4 linked regions of the Homo sapiens genome follow. The protein of the gene in region 2 purifies or fractionates together with the protein of the main gene of each other region. This does not show direct contact. Each region holds a gene or a part of one and is shown on either strand. Other genes may lie near its edges.

Region 1 (4,212 bases), on a different chromosome or scaffold from region 2:
AAGTGTGGAGTCTTGGCCAGGCATGGTGGCTCATGCCTGTCATCCCAGCACTTTGGGAGGCTGAGGCACGTGGATCACCTGAGGTCAGGGGTTCGAGACGAGTCTGGCCAACATGGTGAAACCCCGTCTCTACTAAAAATACAAAAATTAGCCGGGTGTGGTGGCGGGTGCCTGTGATCCCAGCTACTCGGGAGGCTGAGGCACGAGAATCGCATGAACCCGGGAAGCAGAGGTTGCAGTGAGCTGAGATTGCACCACTGTACTCCAGCCTGGGTGACAGTGAGACTCTGTCTCAAAAAAAAAAAAAAGTGTGGAGTCTTGTCCCAGCTCCTGAAAACCAGCCCAGGGACAGCTGGCAGCAGACAGTGACCAGGTGGAGCACACAAAAGCTATGCCAACCAGTTACAATAGGTGGGGCAGGGCCCACCAAGGTGCCAATGTGTAGGGGAATTCTCAAAATATGATCTGGGGATGCTTGGGATCCTCAAGATCCTTTCGGGGGGTCTGAGAAGACAAAAGGATTTTCACAATAACACTAAGATGGCATCTGCCTTTTGCACTCTCATTTGCTCTCAAGCATATGGTGGAGTTTCCCAGAACATCACTAGAGGCCTATTTGATTATATACTCTTGTTTGAAAATGTCTCAGTATTAACTTCTAACGTGGTAAATACTGACAGATATATAACTCCAACAAACAAAAGCACTCTGGGGTCCTCAATAATTCTTAAAGTATGAAGTCTTCAGATGAAAGAGTCCAGATCCACTTGTATAGGGCAATGGTGGGAGTGGACAGTGCCCATCAGTTACAATCCGAGCCCTGTCTGCATCCCTCTGCCCGCCCCTCCTCGCTCCCACTCCTTCCCCCATCCCAGGCCCAAGATGCTTTTATCTGACTGGGGAAGTTTGACTTGTGAGATGTCTGAGAATGCTGTGAACATCTTTCAGGATTTCTCACCCCACTGTCAGCCTAACTGGAAATGCTGTGCTAAGTGCTTTAGGATGGGTTCATCCTGTCACTTGAATTTCACAGCAACCATAGAATGCAGGCGTCATCTCATTGTACATATAAGAAAACTGAGCCTCAGAGAGGTTAAGTCACCTGCCCAGTGTCACCCAGCTAAGAAGTGCCACAGTCATGATTTACATAATGGTCTATCTTACTCCCAAGTCTAGGAGTCTCCTCCTGTGCCAAGAACAGGAAACAAAGCTGTGGGTTCAGGCCTCCCAGCAACAAGCCGCTAACAGAATAAATGGGGTGATAAAGAAAAATGAAAACCACTCACGCAACTTCCAGGCTGTCTTGGTGACCACAGGGGTGGCCATCCTTCAGCTGGCTGGCACCTGAAGCCCCACCCACAAAATAAACTGTGCTTTCCTCGTGGGGTGGGGGTGGATCCCCCCCCAGATCCACCAATCAAGTTGGCAGAGAGTTCCCACACATCCAGGCAGACAGAATGCCTCGTCTTCTGGCCCTGGGGTGCCTCGTGGTTCCAAATTACCCACAGCAGCAACAGCAGCAGCCTGTGCACATCTGTCACGATCCTGGATCATGGAATGTTAGGCTCGAGCCATCTCAGCTCAATACAGGGCTGCAATACAAACAAGAGGTGACGTCATGTTAGAAAATGCTTGGTAAGAGCTGTTGCTCCCTGGATCACCAAGACCACTTGATAAAGACTGACACCCACCAAAGCCACCAGAGTCAGAAGCTGCACTGCAAATTAGGTTTGGGAATCTGCAGAGGGGGCACCTCAGGTAGGGTGATTTGGAACGTAAGGAAAAAGAAACTCCTCCCAGAGGCCAGGATAATGAGCTGCAGCTCTGTTCCGGGATGCTGGCTGCCTAAAGTGCAGCAGCCGCAGTGGGGCGGAGAAGACCACGTGTCTGCAATTCACATAGATTTCCTGCGAGTCGTTGTTTTTGTCTGACGTGTGGGATGTGGGAGAGCGGAGTCAGAAGCTAAGCTTAGGGGCCTAGGAAAGGCATCCCAGAGACGGCCACTGAAGTCCTCCTTGGAAAGAATCTCGAAGACGACCCTGATGGTCCAATTCCCCAGCTCCTGGCAAGGGAACCGCTCCTGCTCCCTGCGATTCCCAAGGACAGAGCTAGGAACTAGGCCTCCAGTCTGGGCGTAAGTGGCTATGACTCTTCAACTCTAAAAGGCCTCCTCATGGAGCCTCCCACCTCCTTCCCACAGCCACTTCACCTCTTTCCCATGAGCCCGCTCCCCTCCGTCCCCTTTCTCCTGGGTCCCCGGGTCTGCCTCTCTAGTCCTCCGTTCACACCCCCTTTTCTCCCTGCCCCCTGAGTCTCCCACTTATGCACATCCTGTCTCCCGATATCCCTCACGTGGCCCCTGCCTCGCCAGACTCCCGTTACTGCCCTTTCCCATATGCTCGCGGGGTCTCCCATTCATTCATTCTCCTACTTCTCTTCTCCCTATTCATTACCTGTCCTTCTGCAGACCCCCAGCTCTGCTTCCGGCCTCCCTGGTTTTGCCCCCTCCGGCCTCCACCCCGACCCCTCTCGTCCGGGGGCGGGGGCAGGTCCCTCGGCCACGGCTGATCCTCCCAACCCTCTGCTTGCGGAGTACGGGCTCTAGCCTCCCCACGCTCAGAGCTCTCTGCCCGCAAGCCCAGCCAGCCCCGCCTGGCTCGGCCCAGCCCAGGGCCCACCGTCCCCTCGCCACCTCGTCCCCTTGCCCACTCCACCTGCAGCTGCGGCTCCGGAGGCCGAGGCTCCGCTCCAGGCGCGACCCCCACTTGCCTCCATCCCCTGCCTTGATTGGCCGCTGCTTGACAACCGACCCTCACAACAAAACCTCCGGCTCAGAGCCCCGCCCACCTTGCCTCCCGCACCAATCAGCTGCCGCGGGTGCTCCGCCTCCTGCCAGGACTGACCAATGGAAGCAGGCGCTTCTGCCGCTTTTCCTCAGTACCCGCCCTCTTTTCCTAAATAGGACTAATCAAGAGGAAGGAACGTTCAAGAGCCGCCCCTTGGCCTCTAATAAACCAATGCAAGCTGCCGTTTCCTTAGTCCCGCCTCCGTCTCAAGTTTTCCCTTTCCTCTCCGTTTCCTCCCTCGAACCTAATTTGTGTCTGAAAACTTTTGAGAGCCGCCCTCCAATGGCGGCTGCGCCAATGGCTTGAGCAACCGTCCTGGATTGACCAATCAGCGTCCGCATTATTGGAAAACTCAATTCCCAGATAGCCAATGGGAAAGGAACTTCGGGGGCAGTGTGAAGCCTCAGGCCTTCCATCTTGGAGTGGGGCAAAACCTAAGGAGGCCTTAGTCGGCATTTTGCCGAAGCTCCTCATTCTTCACTTTGCCTGCAGATGGTCCCCCGTGGCAGGAGGACTTTGTCCCTGTTCTTTGACCCGGACGCCGGCTTGAATCCCCCATGGGAGGTCTAGAAGGAAACAGCCTGATTCCGGAGCCGAGGCAGGCGCTGAACCCTGTAGCACTGCACACGCAGCCACCGCCTCGACTAATGGATGCGTGGGCAAGGGGCTGCTCCCTGAATGGCTGCAATCAGGGAATCGGAGAAAGGCCAGCTTTATTTGTGACACGTTGGGCGGGGTGGGCTCTGGGAAGCGCCGTAACCCTTCTCGACTCAGGGCCTCTCGCGTGGCCGCTTAGGAGGGACTTGGCCCCGCAGCCGCCTCTCCCTGTTGCCCAGAGGTTGTCCCAGGCACCCAGAGCCCCTCGAACCTTGCCCTTCGGCCTCCAGCCTCTCACCGCAGGTCAGGGCTCCTTGGGCTCACATAACGCCCAGTACAACCATAAGAGGTAGGAATTCCTGTTCCCATTTACAGATGAGGAAACTGAGGCCCGGGTTAAGATGCTTGCAGAAAACCACACGGTCAGAAAGTAATAGCCCCAGAATTCGAACCCTTGTTCTGAAAGCCAAAGCGTGGGGGAGTCCCCACTCTGCCTTCTGCTTCAGCCTTCTGCTTCAGATTCTCCTGCTTCAGCCTCCTGGGTAGCTGGAACCACAGGCGCCCGCCACCACGACGGGCTAAGGCTAGTTTTTATATTTTTAGTAGAGACGGGGTTTCTCCATTTTGGCCAGGCTGGTCTTGAACTCCTGACCTTAGGTGATCCACCCGCCCCAGCCTCCCGAAGTGCTGGGATTACAGGCGTGAGTCACCGCAAGACACCTTTAAAAGATTAGCAGAATAACATCGGATCAAAACTGTCTAGCCTGCA
Region 2 (3,671 bases):
TTTCTTCATAACCACTGCATGATAAATAATGCCTACAATCAGAGAAAAAGGGTCTCTTTCAACAGGTTTCTGAGTTGATATTTAAAATCATAAATGTGAAAGGGAAAAACAATAATATTATAGTGAAAGAAAGAAAAAGAAAAAAATCCCACCTGCATGAAAATAATTACAAAAATTAGAAGTGTGAACATCTCCAGATGAAAAGGAACTACCCCAAGAATTTTGGATTTGTGAAAAATCTAAATATAGTGACACCACTGAAGGATCACAGTCGTGTTCCCGCAATGGTTCCTGACCCAAATGGAAACTCAGAAATGACAGATAAAGAATTCAAAGCAAGGATTGCAAGGAAGCTCAACAAGATCCAGACAAGGTTGAAAATAAACACAAAGAAACTTCTAAAGCAATTCAGGAAATGAAGGCATCTTAAGATAAACATCTTAAAAAGGAATCAATCAGAGCTTCTGGAATTGAAAAACTCACTTAAGGAATTTCAAAATATAACTGCAAGTTTTATTAATAGACTAGGCCAAGCAGAAGGAAGAATTTTGGAGCTTGAAGATCAGTCTTTCAAACTAACCCAGTCAGATAAAAATAAAAATAAAAAATTTTTAATGAAAAAGGCTTTGAGAAATATTTGATAATGTAAAGCAACCAAATCTATGAATTATTGGTATTCCTGAGAGAGAAGGAGAAAAAGTAAATGACCTGGAAAACATATTTGAGGACATAATTTAAGAAAATTTCCCTAATCTTGCCAGAGAGGAAGACATCCAGATAGAAGCAATACAGAGAACTCTCTGTGAACGTGAATATCACCATGGCATACAGTCACCAGACTGTTGAAGGTTAACACTAAAGAAAAAATCTTACAGGCAGCTAGAGAAAAACGTCAGATCACATACAAAAGGAACAGTGGACTTCTCAGCAGAAACCTTACAAGGCAAGAGAGATTGGGGGTCTATTTTCAGCATTCTTAAAGAGAGGACACTACAACCAAGAATTTCATATTCCACCAAACTAAGCTTCACAAACGAAGGAGAAATAAAATATTTTACAGACAAGCAAGCGATAAGACAATTTGTTACCACTAGACCAGTCTTAGCAGAGATCCTTAAGGGACTTTTAAACATGGAAATGAAAGAACAACACTGATACCACAAAAACACACTGAAGTACATAGCCCAAAGACCCCATAATACAATCATACAATAGAAACTGCAAAGCAACCATCTACCAACTTAATAATAGGATCAAAACCTCACATATCAATATTAACCTTGAATGTAAAGGGTCTCTTCAGATCATACAAATCTTTCGCCTTTTACGAAACATCCTGCCTAAAAGGCACACAGCTGCAATTTGGATTAAAAAAAAAAAAAGAAAGAAAAAAGACCCATCCATCTGCTGCCTTCAAGAGACACGTCTCACATGTAACAACACCCATAGGCTCAAAGTAAAGGGTTGAAAAAAGATTTATCAACCAAATGGAAAACAAAAAAGGTCAGGGGTCACTAGTTTTTTATTTTATTTTATTTTATTTTTGAGACTGAGTCTCGCCGTGTCGCCAGGCTGGAGTGCAATGGTGCGATCTCGGCTTACTGCAACCTCTGCCTCCTGGGTTCAAGCAATTCTCCTGCCTCAGCCTCCCGAGTAGCTGGGACTACAGGCATGCACTACCACGCCCAGCTGATTTTTGTATTTTTAGCAGATAGAGACGGGGTTTCACCATGTTGGCCAGGATGGTCTTGATCTCTTGACCTCGTGATCCACCCACCTCGGCCTCCCAAAGTGCTGGGATTACAGGCGTGAGCCACCACGCCCAACCAGGGGTCAATATTCTTATATCAGATAAAACAGACTTTAAATCAGACAACAGAGCCAGGCACAGTGGCTCACGCCTATAAGCCCAGAGCTTTGAGAGGCCGAAGTATGACAGAGCAGGAGTATCACCATCTTGCACAAGCACTGTTATTTTCCAATTCACCTTAATCAAAAACTTCCTAAATCCAAAGCGCATCAGCCTAAATGGCTAAGATCAGCATGATCATAAACAAAAAAAGCATCTCCGACCAGGAACATGCCAAACTCCTCTGCGACCAGAGACATGCTAGCTGCCCTGCTCTGGCTGGGAAGATGCCAGCCCCGAGATAACTCCCTTCCTTCTAGAAAGACGTCAGCCCCAAGATAATCCCCCCTTCACCCAGAGACATTCCAACCTCACCATAAACTTCTCCCCCACACATAAACACTCCAAGCTTGTGATAAGCCCCCTCACCCTAAAACCAATATATACTCATGTACTTAGCCTGTAAGAGAAAGTGCTCCTGATCGAAATCAGCCAGAAACCCTTCTCAGGTTTTATCTAAAGTAAACCTGTCTTTAACTGCCAACCCATCTTTTGTGTTTCTTTCCTCTTTCTTTAACTCTTACAAGGGGGGAGGATCGCTTGAGCTCAGGAGTTCAAGACCAGCCAGGGCAATGTGAAAGGAAAATAAATCTTGGGACCCCCACAATCACTAAGCCAAAGGGAAAAGTCAAGCTGGGAACTGCTTAGCGCAACCCTGCCTCCTATTCTATTCCTAAAAAATAGCTACTAAGATTAGAAAAAGTTACGTACCTCCCTCACAAGGAATTTCCCTGTGGACGAAGGACAGACAGAACTCAAACTCAAAGTCATCCCTCTGCTCACTGGGATAAGTGCATATCTGAGTGCCTCCTTTGGAAAGGCTAATCAGAAACTCAAAAAAAAAAAAAAAGGCAACCATTTGTCTCCTACCTACCTATGACCTGGACATACTCTCCCCACTTTGAGTTGTCCCGCTTTTCCAGACAGAACCAATGTATATCTTATATATGTTGATTGATGTCTCATGTATAAAACGTATAAAACCAAGTTGTGCCCCAACCACTTTGGGCATATGTTGCCAGGACCTCCTGAGGCTGTGTCACAGGCACATGCCCTTAATGTTGGCAAAATAAACTTCCTAAATTGACTGAGATCTCTCTCAGATATTTGGGGTTCACAGCAACACAGTGAGACCCCATTTCTATTCAAGAAAAAATTATATATAAAAAAACCAACAACAGTACAAAAGGACAAAGAAGGTAATTACATAATGATAAAGGGTTCAATTCAATGAGAAGACTTAACTATCCTAAATATACACACACCCAACATTGAAGCATCCAGTTTCATAAAACAAGCTCTTAGAGATCTATAGAGATAGCAATAATGTTGGGAGATGTCAAATCCCATTGACAGCATTAGACAGATCACTGAGGCAGAAAATTAAAAAACAAATTCTGGGTGTAAATTCAACATTTGACCAATTGGACCTAATACACATCTAAAGAACACTCCACTCATCAACCACAGAATATATATTCTTCTCAACAGCACATATAACATACTCCAAGACAGACCACATGCTCGGCCAAAAAGCACATCTCAATAAATTTAAAAAACTGATTCACTTGTGAGGCCGAGATGGGCAGATCACTTGAAGGTCAGGAGTTTGAGACCAAATTGGCCAACACGATGAAACCCCATCTCTACTAAAAATACAAAAAAATTAGCTGGCCACAGGGGTGCGCGCCTGTAATCCCAGGTACTCAGGAGGCTGAGGCAGGAGAATTGCTTGAACCAGGAGGGGGAGGTTGCAGTGAGC
Region 3 (3,500 bases), on a different chromosome or scaffold from region 2:
CTGAAGCACATGTGCATAACAAAGTTTATGCAAAGGGGAAGTGACATCCTAGGCCTAAGAAGAACTGCTGAAGCTAACTCAAAACCTCAGCAAAGAATGAAGACAATCACACTATGTACCACCTACCCAGACTACCTACTCAATAATTTCCCCAAACAGAAGCAGCCAGAAGAGCAAGGGCTATTGCCTCAATTAAGTGATACAGTCACATATCTTGAAGCCCTTTAGAAGCTTCAATGTTATATGACATAAGACTATTTTGCCTTGCTTCTTCTCTGAGAAAACACCAAATGGCAGATGATGTCGGTGGAGGGGGTGGGGCGGGGGCAGAGGCCCCGGGGGCCCTGGGATGGGAAACCGTGGTGGCTTCCATGGAGGGGCTGGGGTTGCAGCTGTGGACAGGGCTGAGGCCACGGAGCTCGTGGAGGCAAGGCCAAGGATAAGGAGTGGATGCCTGTCACCAAGCTGGGCTGCTTGGTTAAGGACATAAAGATCAAGTCCCTGGAGAACTACCTCTTCTTCCTGCCCATCAAGGAATCTGAGATCACTGACTTTTTCCTGGGGGCCTCTCTCAAGGATGAGGTGTTGAAGATTATGCCAGTGCAGAAGCAGACCCACACTGGCCAGTTGAAAAGGTTCAAGGCGTTTGTTGCCATCGGGGACTACAATGGCCACGTCGGTCTGGGTGTTAAGTGCTCCAAGGAGGTGGCCACTGCCACCTGCGGGGCCATCATCCTGGCCAAGCTCTCCATTCTCCCTGTGCACAGAGGCTACTGGGGGAACAAGATCCACAAGCCCCACACCGTTCCTTGCAAGGTGACAGGCTACTGCGGCTCTGTGCTGGTGCACCTCATCCCTGCGCCCAAGGGCACTGGCATCGTCTCAGCCCGTGCCCAAGAAGCTGCTCATGATGGCTGGTATTGATGACTGCTACACCTCAGCCAGGGGCTGCACTGCCACCCTGGGCAACTTCGCCAAGGCCACCTTTGATGCCATCTCTAAGACCTACAGCTACCTGACCCCCGACCTCTGGAAGGAGACAGGATTCACCAAGTCTCCCTATCAGGAATTCACTGACCACCTCATCAAGACACACACCAGAGTCTCTGTGCAGAGGACGTAGGCTCCAGCTGTGGCTACAACATAGGGTTTTTATACAAGAAATATAAAGTGAATTAAGCCTGAAAAAAAAAAAAAAAAAAGACTGTTCTGCCTTGCTTCACTGCATCCACAGCCAATGGAACTTTTAGGTATTACCAACGGCAAAACTGGTCCTCAGACTTCCTGCCCAGCTCTCCCCCACCCGCCTAGCTATGCTCTGTGCAACACGGCAAGCGACAGTCTCAGTTTGAAATTACATTACATTGATTTATTGCTACTGCTAATCATTTGTCAAAACTCCCAATGTGCTGGGCAGAGACCATAACAGTCATGGTCTCAGCTCTGAGAAAGAGTGCTTTCCTGAACTCCCATCCATACTTTGACTTTTGTGAGGTGAAAAACACCTAATGTGATTATTTACAATCTATATATGGTTAAGTTCCTAGTACCTGAGGTCTATATCCAACTCTCTTGAGTGTATCTACCCTTCCTCAGCACTCAATAGTTGTAAAATAATAACTGAACTTAAACATTTTTGAAGGTCTCTAGCTTTCTATTAATACTTTATCTACTTCACATACACACATATATTAGACATGAACTTACCTAACCCTTTCTGAATCTGTTTCAGCCTGGATAAACTAAAAAATAACACCATTTTAAAAAGACTTCCCATTTTGTCCAGAACTTTTCTTTGGAGAAGGGACTGCTCATAGTTTCACTGTTTTAGAATCTATACCATCTCAACTGTTCTTCATTTGGGGGACTCTGATTATGTCCCCTCAGCCTCTTCTTTCTAGTCAGACTCAGATGACCTTTTTAAAGTCTTTTTTTCTATACAATTTATTCAACAACAGAGTCTACACATCATTATACTCCTCCCACTTAGAAATTCTATCCCAGCGTTTTATTTTGTACTGGACATGTGGCATAGGAAATAACTTTAGAGCTGGCACCATCCTTTCAAATATATCATTCGGAAAACAGCAACATTTCTGCCTTCAAGTACTAGTATAGTAGGCCCTGCCTTAGGTGATGCCTACCTGTCCATGTCTTCCAGATTATCCACTGGTGACCCCAGCCGATCACTAAGCCGTCGCCGTTCTGGTGTGCTAACACAGAAGTGGTCATTGCCAACAGTGATCCTTAAGCTCTTTTCCAAAGAGTCAGAACACAGACCAGGAGAGCGTCTCTACAAAAGTAAAGGATAATATGGTTAGTCAATAGGGTCAAGACATCCCTACATCCAAAAACTCTCCTCCCTAGTTACAAAGTTAGCCAGGCATGGTGGCTCATGCCTGTATACCCAACACTTTGGGAGGCTGAGGTGTATAGGCCCAGGCAAGAATGTGAGACCAGTCTGGGCAACACAGACTCCATCTCTATAAAAAAAAGTTTAAAATTAGCCAGGTGTGGTCCCAACTACTCAGGTGGCTGAGGTGGGAGGATAGCTTAAGCTTGGGAGGTCAGGGCTGCAGTGAGCCATGACTGCACCACAGCACTTCAGCCTGGGCAATGAGCAGGACCTTGTCTCAAAAACAAAAGACAACCCTGCAAAGTTGGGGTTCAACAAGGTGAGAAATGGTTATGGTAAGACACTATACCAAAAATAAAGCACTTTTTAAAAATTATCATTTTCTTAGAGATATAAGCCCATACCTCTAACTCTCCTAAACGGTGACCTCTCATTCTTACTGGGCATGGGAAAAGAGAAGTGAATAAAGTCCCTGCTCTCAGAACCCTACTTCTAGTGTACATACTTCTAGTGAAGGAGGTAAGCCAAAAACAAGTTTAAAGAAAAAAAAAATTCTTCTGGTAAGTGCTATAGTCATTAAAACATGGTACCATAAAAGGAGTTACTTCAGATAGGATGGTTAGAAAAGGTTTTTCTCAGGTGATAACCTGAGGCCTGAAGAATGAGGTGTCAGCTTTGCAAAGAACAGGTAGAAAGATGTTTCAGGCAAAGAAAAGAACCACCTCAGTATAGAGCTTGGTATACTTTAAGTAACAGAAAAGCGGCCGGTGTGGCTGCAGCAAAGTGACAGAAGAGGAAAAGATAGGCAGAAAGCACAGTTGGGAAATTTGGATTTTATTCTTAGTGCAATTAACAGTTATAGGAGGGTTTTACACAGGATAGTGACATCATCTGACTACATTTTTCCTCCAGATGCTTGCACAGCACACCCTCACCTCCTTCAGATCTTTATTCAAAAATCACCTTCCCAGGAGGCCTTCCCTGACTACTCTCAAAAATTTTAACTCCCCGGGCCAGGCATGGTAGCTTATGCCTGTAAGCCCAGCATTTTGGGAGGCTGAGGCAGGAGAATCACTTGAGGCCAGGAGTTTGAGACCAGCCTGGGCAACATAGTGAAATCCCTCCCCACACCAAAACATTTTTT
Region 4 (3,500 bases), on a different chromosome or scaffold from region 2:
TTTATTTTTAATTTTAATTTTTTAAATTTTTATGTATTTATGTATTTATTTATTTGAGACAAGGACTCACTCTGTCTCAGGCTAAAGTGCAGTGGTGCAATCAAAGCTCACTGCAGCATCGAACTCCTGAGCTCAAGCAATGCTCCTGTCTCAGCCTCTGAATTAGATGGGACACAGCCTGACACACTGCCAGGCTAATTTTTTTTCTTTTCTTTTCTTTTTTTTTTTTTTTTTTGATACGAAGTTTTGTTCTATCGTTCAGGCTGGAGTGCAGTGGCACAATCTCGGCTCAGGGCAACCTCCACCTCCCAGGTTCAAGCAGTCTGCTGCCTCAGCCTCCCAAGTAGCTGGGATTACAGGCATGTGCCACCATACCTGGCTATTTTTTTGTTTTGTTTTGTATTTTCAGTAGAGAGAGGGTTTTTCCATGTTGGCTAGGCTAATCTTGAACTCCTGACCTCAGGTGATTCACCTGCCTCTGCCTCCGAAAGTGCTGGAATTACAGGTGTGAGCCACTGTGCCTGACCGCCAGACTAATTTTTAACCTTTTTTTTTTTTTTTTTAAGAGACAGAGTCTTGCTCTGTCACCCAGGCTGGATTGCAATGGCATGATCTCAGGTCACCACACCCTCCACCTCCGGGGTTCAAGGGATTCTCCTGCCTCAGCCTCCCGAGTAGCTGGGATTACAGGTGCCCCACCACCACGCCTGGCTGATTTTTGTATTTTTAGTAGAGACGGGGTTTCACCATGTTGGCCAGGCTGCTCTCGAACTCCTGACCTCAGGTGATCCGCCCACCTCAGCCTCCCAAAGTGCTGAGATTACAGGCGTGAGCCACCTCACCCGGTCTTAAATTGTTTTTTCAGAGACAGTCTCGCTATGTTGCCCAGGCTGGTCTCAAACTCCTGGGCTCAAGCAATACTCCCATCTCAGCCTCCCAAAGCGCTGGGATTACAGACAGGAGCCACTGTGCTTGGCCTTAGCTTCTTCTTAAATGGCAGCAGTTTGAGTAGTGAGACTAGGCAGAAGCACCCCTCCTTGTGTTGGGAGCCATGCAAGTGGGAAGGGCATGGCTTTGAGGCAGACAGCTTTGGGTTCAAATCCCAGCTCTTCCACTTTCCCGCTGCGTGACCTCGCAGCACATCAATAACCTCTTGAAGCCTCAGTTTCATGAACTGTAAAGTCGAGGGTCTCAAAAACAGGCACCACCTGGGTTTGTTGTAAAATATTAAAAAAAAAAAAAAAAAAAAAGGCCGGGTGCCTGTAATCCCAGCACTTTGGGAGGCCGAGGTGGGTGGATCACATGAGGTCGAGAGTTCGAGACCAGCCTGACCAACATGGAGAAACCCTGTCTCTAATAAAAATAACAAAATTAGCCAGGCGTGGTGGCACATGCCTGTAATCCCAGCTACTCGGGAGGCTGAGATAGGAGAATCACTTGAACCCAGGAGGTGGAGGCTGCAGTAAGCCGAGATCCTGCCATTGCACTCCAGCATGGGCAATAAGAGCAAAACTCCGTCTCAAAAAAAAAAAAAAAAAAAAAAAGGAACAAAAGAGCTTAGCCCAGATTCTGGCATAACAGCGCAGCTCTGATGCACTATGTGCTTTACCTACATTCTCCCCAGTCCTCCCATTTTACAGAGGAAGAAACTGAGGTCCCGGGGGGACATGGCTTATCTAGGTTCACACTCCTATAATCTGGATGGGTGAGTGGAAGAAGGAGAGTGAACTCCTGGACAGGGATGCTCCTGCCCTCCTCTCTGTCCCAAACCTGCCAAAGCCTTCAGGTTTAGAAATTCAGGGAGTGTCTGGGGTATAAAAGGAATTTTTGCTGCCCATGGTCTAACTTTTATTCATTCAGCACATCCTGAATTCTGGGTATATCAGTTGGCATGCAGTTCTCCAGGCGATCTATGCCTTTGCCAGTGCTGTTGCTTCTGCCTGGAATGTCCCAGCCCTCCCTCCTACTCATCCTTTAAGACTCAAGTATCACCTGTGGGTCACTCCCTCTCTCCCCCCAACACACACAGGCACACACCAGGTTGAGCAAAGCACCACCCACCTGGAACTTATCCTGATGACAGGCTATAGTGATAATAATCATACCACCCCTTACAGAGCATAGACACGGGGCCTAGCACTGTCCATACACTGCTTCAGTAAACTCACATAAGAACCTTTTGAGAATGGGAGTATCCTATCATGAGCCCTTTTTACAGATAGGGAAGTCGAGTCTCAAAACCATAACCATGCCCAAGGCCACAGCCAGGAGCAGGCAGGGCCAGGGTTTGCCCTGGACTATCTCTGGCTGATTCCCTCCCTCCCTTCTTTTTTTTTTTTTTTTTGAGACAGAGTCTCGCTCTCTCGCCCAGGCTGGAGTGCAGTGGCACTATCTCGGCTCACTGTAAGCTCCGCCTCGCCAGTTCACGCCATTCTCCTGCCTCAGCCTCCCAGGTAGCTGGGACTACAGGCACCCGCCACCACGCCCGGCTAATTTTTTGTTTTCGTATTTTTAGTAGACACGGGGTTTCACCGTGTTAGCCAGGATGGTCTCGATCTCCTGATCTCGTGATCCATCCGCCTCGGCCTCTCAAAGTGCTGGGATTACAGGCGTGAGCCACCACGCCCGGCTGGCTGGCTCCCTCCCTTCTATCTGCCTCCTCCGGGAAGGCTCCTTCAATTTATCCCTTCCACACCCAACTGAAACCCACCTTCCTCTGTTGCTTCTCTACGGCTTAACCTGAACCCAAATATTCACTAGTTGCAAGTTGGAAGGGAGTTCAAATTCCTGCTTTGCCACTGCTGCCTGGCAAACGCCTCACAATGCCACAGAGGCCTGCATCAGTGAAATGGGAATAATGTGCCCCATGTCTCCCCACAGGAAGTCCTTGAGGACTGGCATGTTTTATACCTACCCCTGAACAGGCACAGGGTTCTAAAGCAGGTTTGCTAAACTGAATTCAGTACTGATACCACTCCCTCTGAGGGGTTTCCTTACCCCAGGTAGACTGTTACACCCACCTTGAGGAAGGGATCTTCAAAGTGAGTGGCTCTCTAAATGTAACACTGATCAATGTCAAAGTTGTCAGTGAACACCCCTCCAACACCATTGGTCTCTACGTCCAGTCCACCGCGCACCGCGGTCTCTCACCAGGATTTTTCTTTTTTCTTTTCTTTTTTTTTTTTTTTTTTGAGACGGAGTCTCACTCTGTCGCCCAGGCTGGAGTGCAGTGGCATGATCTTGCTTCACTGCAAGCTCCGCCTCCCCGGTTCATGCCATTCTCCTGCCTCAGCCTCCCAAGTAGCCAGGAGAACAGGCACCTGCCCCATGCCTGGCTAATTTTTTTGTATTTTTAGTAGAGATGGGGTTTCACCATGTTAGCCAGGATGGTCTCGATCTCCTGACCTCGTGATCGTCCTGCCTTGGCCTCCCAAAGTGCTGGGATTACAGGCGTGAGCCACCGCGCCTGGCCTCTCACCTGGATTTTTCTAGCAGCCTGC

Evidence for each region. Proteins that work in one complex are often made in the same cells at the same time.
Region 1: the proteins of ASB3 (region 2) and KATNB1 purify together in Homo sapiens (affinity purification with mass spectrometry, with the first as the bait; 2 studies listed by BioGRID). This does not show direct contact.
Region 3: the proteins of ASB3 (region 2) and ZNF318 purify together in Homo sapiens (affinity purification with mass spectrometry, with the first as the bait; 2 studies listed by BioGRID). This does not show direct contact.
Region 4: the proteins of ASB3 (region 2) and KIAA1671 purify together in Homo sapiens (affinity purification with mass spectrometry, with the first as the bait; 2 studies listed by BioGRID). This does not show direct contact.

What each region holds. Positions count from the first base shown.
Region 1 is NC_000016.10:57,734,358-57,738,569, reverse strand, and holds the start of KATNB1 (katanin p80 WD40 repeat-containing subunit B1), read right to left. Parts: upstream 2,801-4,212; 5' UTR 2,715-2,800; intron 2,135-2,714; exon of another isoform or gene 1,926-2,134; intron 1,593-1,925; 5' UTR 1,327-1,592; coding exon 1,287-1,326; intron 1-1,286.
Region 2 is NC_000002.12:53,717,395-53,721,065, forward strand, and holds part of ASB3 (ankyrin repeat and SOCS box protein 3), read right to left. Parts: intron 1-3,671. UniProt on the Homo sapiens protein: Probable substrate-recognition component of a SCF-like ECS (Elongin-Cullin-SOCS-box protein) E3 ubiquitin-protein ligase complex which mediates the ubiquitination and subsequent proteasomal degradation of target proteins. Recognizes TNFRSF1B.
Region 3 is NC_000006.12:43,363,148-43,366,647, forward strand, and holds part of ZNF318 (zinc finger protein 318), read right to left. Parts: intron 2,294-3,500; coding exon 2,145-2,293; intron 1,073-2,144; exon of another isoform or gene 268-1,072; intron 1-267.
Region 4 is NC_000022.11:24,955,716-24,959,215, reverse strand, and holds part of KIAA1671 (uncharacterized protein KIAA1671), read right to left. Parts: intron 1-3,500.